2 linked regions of the Homo sapiens genome follow. The protein of the gene in region 1 purifies or fractionates together with the protein of each later gene. This does not show direct contact. Each region holds a gene or a part of one and is shown on either strand. Other genes may lie near its edges.

Evidence for each region.
Region 2: the proteins of MC5R (region 1) and MRAP2 purify together in Homo sapiens (co-immunoprecipitation; one study listed by IntAct). This does not show direct contact.

The regions. Positions count from the first base shown.
Region 1 is NC_000018.10:13,822,720-13,827,110, forward strand, and holds the start of MC5R (melanocortin receptor 5), read left to right. Parts: upstream 1-1,429; 5' UTR 1,430-1,555; intron 1,556-3,007; 5' UTR 3,008-3,046; coding exon 3,047-4,024; 3' UTR 4,025-4,391. UniProt on the Homo sapiens protein: Receptor for MSH (alpha, beta and gamma) and ACTH. The activity of this receptor is mediated by G proteins which activate adenylate cyclase. This receptor is a possible mediator of the immunomodulation properties of melanocortins.
Region 2 is NC_000006.12:84,050,716-84,054,532, forward strand, and holds part of MRAP2 (melanocortin-2 receptor accessory protein 2), read left to right. Parts: exon of another isoform or gene 1-3; intron 4-3,817. UniProt on the Homo sapiens protein: Modulator of melanocortin receptor 4 (MC4R), a receptor involved in energy homeostasis. Plays a central role in the control of energy homeostasis and body weight regulation by increasing ligand-sensitivity of MC4R and MC4R-mediated generation of cAMP.

The sequences.
Region 1 (4,391 bases):
AGCCTTGGGCAAAGAGGGGCGTGGTAGGGCCACAGATGAGGGCTCCCAGGCACTGGGCCTCCTTCCCAAAGAACAATCATCAGGACATCCCAGAGACCACTGTCCAGGAGAAACGGGGTGACAAGCCCTCTTTGAGCTCGGGAGCATTTTAATCAGTGCTCAAGAGGAAGAGAAAAGAAACAAAAAGTGCAACCAGCCAGAAAAACAACCAAGCAGCTACCCACCCAACCACCCATCCACCCACCCACTGACCCAACCAACCACTCCCCCACCCAACCACCTATCCATCCACCCACCGACCCAACCAACCAACCAACCAACCACCCACACAACCACCCATCCACCCAACCCACTGACCCAACCAACCAAACCAAGCAACCACCCACCCAACCACCCATCCACCCACCCACTGACCCAACCAACCTAGCAACCACTCACCCAACCACCCATCCATCCACCCACTGACCCAGCCAACCAACCAACCAACCAACCACCCTCCCAACCACCCATCCACCCACCCACTGACCCAACCAACCAACCAAGCAACCACCCACCCAACGACCCACCCACCCACCCACTGACCCAACCAACCAACCAAGCAACCACCCACCACCCACCCACCCACTGACCCAACCAACCAACCAAGCAACCACCCACCTACCCAACCAACCCCCACTTACCCAATCAACCAACCAAGCAACCATCCACTCACCCAACCAACCACCCACCCACCCAAGCAACCAATCAACGAACCAAGCAACCACCCACCTACCCAACCAACTACCCCCCACCCACCCAAGCAAGCGAGCAAGCGAGCAAGCAACCAAGTAACCATCTACTCACTCAACCAAGCAACCACCCACCTACCCAACCAACCAATCAACCAACCAAGCAACCACCCACCTACCCAACCAACCAATCAACCAACCAAGGAACCACCCACCTACCCAATCAACGAACCCCCCACCCAACCAGCCAAGCAACCAAGTAACCATCCACTCACCTAACCAATCAACCAATCAACCAATCAGGCAACCACCCACCTACCCAACTAACTAACCCGTAACCACCCAACCAACCAAGCAAGCAACCACCTGCTCACCCAACCAACCAATCACCAAACAAGCAACCACCCACCCACCCACTCAACCAACCAACTACCCAACCAAGCAACCACTCACCCAACCAACCATTCAACCGACCGACCGACCGACCGACCGACCCACCGACCCGACCGACCAACCAACCAACCAAGCAACCATCCAACCATTCAAGAGTGTGTTCGGGGGGATTTTCGCTCGGGGCTGACGCGGTTCTCTGGCCGCTGTGCCGTGCTGGGCCACTAGGTGGCAGCGGAGGCCGCCCGGAGCGACAGCCGGCGGTGCGGAGGCGGGCCCGGCGCGGGCAGGCAGGAGGCTTAAAGCCCCGCAGAGCCGCAGCCGCCTAGCTGGGGGAGAGGCCCGTCCGGGGCTGGCTCTGAGCGCCGCACGGCCGTCGGATCCCGGGGACGCCGGGGGCCCGGGCTGAGCGCCGCGGCCCGCGAGGAGGAGCACCGGTAAATAGCCACAACTTTCTATCTCCTTGAGATCCTGAGAATAAATGCAAAATCGCGCTTCCGCTGCATGTGGAAGTGAGCGGGGCGGCAGCTAGCTTGCCCCGTGAGTTTTTAACACAGCTCGATATGATGTTTAGTATAATTGCATAATTTACCGATATATCTGAGCTGGAACTCAGCTGTAACAAATGATTGTAGTTCAATAAATGCTTAGATTACCAATTTTTTCCTTTTTTATTTTTATAGATTTAGGGGGTACAGGTGCTGTTTTGTTATATGGATGTATTGCATAGTGGTGGAGACTGGGCTTTTAGTGTAGCCATCACCCCTATAGTGTACATTGTACCTATTAAGTAATTTGTTGTCCCTCACCCCCTCCCTCCCTCCCAAAGTGATTACAAATATTAATGATGACAGTGATGACAGAAATTCTCTCCAGATGTGATCTGAGTTTGGAGGGCAAAGGGATTTTTGAAAATGAATCATAAGAGAGAAATTTTGCAACAAAGGAGTGTGGTACATTTAAATTGCTGTTTTTTTTTTTAAATACTGTGCTCACGCGGACCTAATAAACTATCAAGCAGACCTCATGGAATTCCACATAATGCAGAAGCGAGGGAAAAATAGGTATTGAGGGAAAAGCAGCACTGTTTTCCTCAATTTTAACACGTATGTGCAGCCTACACTTACAAACTTAAGACAGTAGCTTTTAACATGTGACTTTGCTCAGGGTAACAGACCATTCTGGTTATAGCCTTACTTACAGCTGTGGAGGCTGAATCCTGATGGGTCTAAGAAGTGTCAGGACAAGTGTTAGGGATGCACCTGTCTGTCTGTCTTAAGGGAATACGGGTCTGGGCAGTCTTAAATCGGAGCTCCCTTGAGGAGAATGTCGTGCAGTAGCCTTAGGAATGTGAACATTGGGAGACTGGCTGGGATTTTGTAGGTTATGAGTTGGGGACACTTATGATAGTGAACTTGAGCCCAGGAGAGAAGCCATAAAAAGTGAAACTGTCCTGGGCACTTGGAGGTGAGTGTCTCTCTAGTAAGATGCATGTGAAAGGCTGGGAGCTGAAAGCAAGGAGAGCAGAAGAGGCTGGTGAAGATTCTAATCTGCGTGTCCAGGGGCACTCTTCCAGGTCTCAGGAACGCAGGTCAGAATGTGCAAGCCAGCTGCCGGGCACGTGGCTCACCCCTGTAGTACCAGCACTTTGGGAGGCTGAGAGAGAAGATCGCTTGTGGCCAGGAGTTTGAGACCAGACTGGGCAACATAGGGAGACCCTGTCTCTTAAAAAAAAAAAAAAAAAAGGACTGAGTGAGCCGAGCCCAGTCCTCTGATGCACTGTGTCATTCATCCCCTTTCTTAGGCTGTGTTGGTTCTAGGCTAGCTGCTGTCTTTCTTTGGTAGGCTGCTAACCTCTTTGGATTGTGAATTTAAAACATGTTTTACAGTAAATTTGCTGCCAAGACAAGAGGTGTATTTCTCCAGCAATGAATTCCTCATTTCACCTGCATTTCTTGGATCTCAACCTGAATGCCACAGAGGGCAACCTTTCAGGACCCAATGTCAAAAACAAGTCTTCACCATGTGAAGACATGGGCATTGCTGTGGAGGTGTTTCTCACTCTGGGTGTCATCAGCCTCTTGGAGAACATCTTGGTCATAGGGGCCATAGTGAAGAACAAAAACCTGCACTCCCCCATGTACTTCTTCGTGTGCAGCCTGGCAGTGGCGGACATGCTGGTGAGCATGTCCAGTGCCTGGGAGACCATCACCATCTACCTACTCAACAACAAGCACCTAGTGATAGCAGACGCCTTTGTGCGCCACATTGACAATGTGTTTGACTCCATGATCTGCATTTCCGTGGTGGCATCCATGTGCAGCTTACTGGCCATTGCAGTGGATAGGTACGTCACCATCTTCTACGCCCTGCGCTACCACCACATCATGACGGCGAGGCGCTCAGGGGCCATCATCGCCGGCATCTGGGCTTTCTGCACGGGCTGCGGCATTGTCTTCATCCTGTACTCAGAATCCACCTACGTCATCCTGTGCCTCATCTCCATGTTCTTCGCTATGCTGTTCCTCCTGGTGTCTCTGTACATACACATGTTCCTCCTGGCGCGGACTCACGTCAAGCGGATCGCGGCTCTGCCCGGGGCCAGCTCTGCGCGGCAGAGGACCAGCATGCAGGGCGCGGTCACCGTCACCATGCTGCTGGGCGTGTTTACCGTGTGCTGGGCCCCGTTCTTCCTTCATCTCACTTTAATGCTTTCTTGCCCTCAGAACCTCTACTGCTCTCGCTTCATGTCTCACTTCAATATGTACCTCATACTCATCATGTGTAATTCCGTGATGGACCCTCTCATATATGCCTTCCGCAGCCAAGAGATGCGGAAGACCTTTAAGGAGATTATTTGCTGCCGTGGTTTCAGGATCGCCTGCAGCTTTCCCAGAAGGGATTAAGCACAAAGTGCTCCTCTCTGTGGCTCTGTTCTCCTTTGTTTGCTCACCTATGACAAAGCGACAGCCAAGGGGTAGGCGGGAGTGCTAGCATCCCATTTTTCTCTTTACCAGCTCAGACATGGGCCTAAGAGGCTCTCTCTGTTCAGTTCCTGGTGATTATGTCCAACATGCAAGGGTTGCTTATCCACTCTGGGGACAGTCATGACAATTTCTTACTGTCCTTTTGTGTCCTATGGTTTCTACTGCTCCCACCCATTTCTGGGGGCCCCATCCACCCTCCACCTAGCAGGCATGTGCTCGGGGAATGCACAGCACCCTCAGTGCAAGCCAGACATGATGAAACACGTATTGTGACGCGAAGAAAACC
Region 2 (3,817 bases), on another chromosome or scaffold:
CAGGTAACTGAAAAGACCTTTCTGGCCTGGGCCAGATCAGAGGTTGGTGGTCCTGGGTGGCATGCCTACTTTTGGAGTTTGAGGATTGAAGAGGAAGGTGAGAGAGTCATTGCAATTGGGAACTTTGATCATCTGACTGGCCATTAGGTCTTCCCCTGTACAAACTGGTCAGCATAGGTCTTTGGATTTGTGGCACTGGCTGGCAGTTTCTTGGAATGCCTTAGTAGCTGTGCTGTCAGTTGTGTGCATGTTTGTGTGGGGGCATGCTCATTTTTCAGGGTTTCTGGCACCTTTTGGATTTCTTCTTAATGTGCTAGTCCTGTGCCTGGGTTGGTGGTCACTTGTAAAACTCATCTGCTGATGTTTACCCCTTAACATGGAAAAAAAGTGTCTAACTCCAAAGAAGCAGCCCCCTTAACATGCATACCATCGTAATCCACCAGGGATATTGACACAAAGACATTTATTCACTCTTTGAGAAGTTCTATGTCTGAGTACATCTCCTCAAATTCAGGGAGGTGGAGAGAATTGCTTGATCCATTTTTAAGAAGGTAGAGAGGACTGGGCACGGTGACTACACCTATAATCCCAGCACTTTAGAAGGCCCAGGCAGGCAGATCACCTGAGGTCAGGAGTTTGTAGACCAGCCTGGCCAGCATGGCAAAACCCTGTCTACACCAAAAATACAAAAATTAGCTGGATCTGGTGGCATGTGCCTGGAGTCCCAGTTTCTTGGGAGGCTGAGGCGGGAGAATCACTTGAACTCAGGAGGCAGAGGTGGCAGTGAGCAGAGATTGCACCACTGCACTCCAGCCTGGGTGACAGAGCAAGACTCGCCTCAAAATAAAAGAAGGAAAAGAGGCCAGGTGTGGTGGCTCATGCATGTAATCTCAGCACTTTGGGAGGCTGGGGCAGGAGGATCGTTTCAGCCAGGGAGGTCAATGCTGCAGTGAACTGTGATCATACCATCGCATTCCTACCTGGGCAATAGAGTAAGACCTTGTCTCAAAAAAAGGGGAGCGGGGAGGAAAAGAGAGTGCCCAGGAGTGGTGTGGGAACCTGGGTTGGAGCAGGAAAGATTGGATAGTCCAAAGAAGGGATGAAAGTGATGGGAATGTGGGTTGGAGAAGGGGTGATGGTTTAATGAGAGGTGTCTGGGCCTGCTCACCACGCTTTCTCTGTTTGGGTTTGTGATCTCCCGTCTTCCCCAACAATGGGCTGGCCTGGGCCACACTACCCTGTGCACACCTGGAAAAGGTAAGCTTCCTTTCAGGGCTAGCTTTCGGATGCAGTCCTAATCTTCATTTTTGCTTTTGTTGGCAGTGATGCTTTCAGCTGTTCAAAAGAGCAATTTAGTCTCTCCCTCATGCTCCTGGAAGCTTGTTTAGGATATGTTTCCTGTCAAAGAAGTTATTTTTCATGACTCTAATTTTATGAAGAAATCTGACATTAAGAAAATCTCGGTGCGGAGAGGGTGGTTCTCAGGAGTGGCAGCCATACAGAGAGCAGCTGCCCGTGGAGCTGCCGCTTCCTGCTGTTGTGTTCAAGAGAGAGCAGCTGCCGGCCTGTCAGCACCCCAGGGAGTGAGGCTCAGGGCCAGGCTGCCTCCCTCACTGCGTGGGTGGCCGAGATCATGCACACTGTGGCGGGAATAGCAGACTCTGGGGGCTGCTACTTGGACATGCTGGCAGTTCCCAGCTTATGTTTCAGCAAAGCTTGGAGAGTCATTGCTGGGCTTGGTAATGGGGACAACACAGAACACTTCCCTAGCACTGCCGTATGTTTGTTGTTGGTCTTTGTGCATCTGATGGCCTAAGCTGATTAATTTGAGGCTTGCATGAAAAAATAATGCCTTGTGGACTTTTTCAAGGGCACTAGGTGACTGCTTTAAAGAAGAGGTCAGAGGTTCTGTCCTCCAAAGCTATCTTTGGGATTCAAGAAGTGAGAGGAAAGAGGCAGTGGAGACAAATGCCCCTCCTTTTGTTTGAAGGCTACCCAGGCAACTGGTGGCTGCCTGGGGAGAGCTGGTGTCACATTTCATTCTGCAGAATGAGAACCTCCTGTAGGCTGGCTCTGGTATTCACTCATTCTTGTCTCTCAGTGTTTGTCAGAGCTTTGCTCCTCTCTTCCCACCTTCAGGACTTTTGCACATGTAGCTTTCATTACCCTTTGGTAATGCCCTTTAGTAATCCATCCCTAAATAGTTCGTTTAGATGAAAGGGAATAGTGTAAGGGGGAGTAAAAGAAGGCATGTCTCTATTGTAGGGTGGGTGGTTGATATTCCTTACAGTTAACTCTTACACACTGACCGGCCCCATGAGGGTGGTGTTACTGCTGCTTTCTGACTGGTCTTGTGGAACCTGGTAGCCACAAATGGGGGTCCCCACCGTGTGCTGACATTGAGAACTGCGTGGCCGTGGGAGAACAGCTCTCGGTTCTGTGGTGTGCTGAATAGACGACACCCTCCATCTTTATTTTCTTTATTCCTTTAAGTACTTTTCCCTATTTTTCTATTCCAGATGAAGTTTAGTCCCTCCCTCTGCTCTGCTATTATAGTAGCTGTAATGTTGATTTCTACTAAAAATGATATGATCAAACCAGACTTCATCTTATTTTCCTTAATAAAAAAAGGAGAGAAAGATTATCATTTTATTTTTGAGTTGGTAGAATAGCATGAATCCCAGGATGTAAATGTTGATCATTTTAACTTTTAAATGATCTAAATGCCTTTAAGTAATTTTTTGTCATAGTTTTATTTATTTGTCTAGGCACCGTGGCTCACAGTTGTAATCCCAACACTCTGGAGGCTGAGGCAGGTAGATTGCTTGAATCAATCAATTAACACTTGGTGCATTTGATAAGAATTGGCTGACCAGGGAGTTGGGTGTGTCTGAAGAACAAAGCGAGGCTTTTCTATTCAAGATCAGCATTTCTAATTAATAATAGTTGTGCTGCCTGCTAATATTTTTCTTAATTTTTCATGCAACATCACATTTAACTTTTATGGCAACTCCATGAAGTGGGTACTATAATCATCTTCATGTTACTAGTGGGAAAACTGAAGCTCAGATTTTTCAGGGCTCTAGAGCAGGGATTGGCAAACTTTTTCTATAAAATACCAGAAAGTAAATATTTTAGGCTTTTTGGGCCCATCCTTTGAACAGTATGATGATGTGGGGTTGGAGTCTTTTTTTGTGGAGTCCATGTCTGGGATGGGAAAGAAGGGGTAAGGGAAAGGGGAGAGTGATGCAGAAGTGGGGTGGAAGGGTGGTGGTGATTTTGCCTCAGCTTCCCTGAGGATTGTGCCCTGGAGGCAGTGGGGACGGATGCGGGCGAAAGAAACCTCAGAAAGCTCTTGAAGTGGGGCTGCTTCAAGAATCTTGAAGCTCAAGATGACTGGTGACTGCTCAGTGAATCTTTGTTACCGCTGACATTTCATTCAGATTTTCCCTTATGTTACTGCTATTTGTCACTTTGTCTTCCTTTCTCCATTATAAGGGAAGGTCTGTGGAGTACTGATCTGTCTCAGGCATCTCTGCCCACCCCACAGTGTGCGGTGTCTTGCACACAGTAGGTGCTCAAACACAGTTATTGAACACAGGCTGCATTGACTTATCACCTTCGGTATCCGTGCTGCGCAGTGCAACCATCTTCTCCCAAAGAAGTCAGGATTTTTTGGTCTAAAATAGTCACAGTTAACAAAGATACTTGGGAAATCCTGAAAATATCATAAATTTCAGGAGTAAGCAGTTGGACAAGTTGTGGACTTCTGTTGAGTATCTTCTGCAAGATCCACTATGCAACTTTTGCTGCCTGT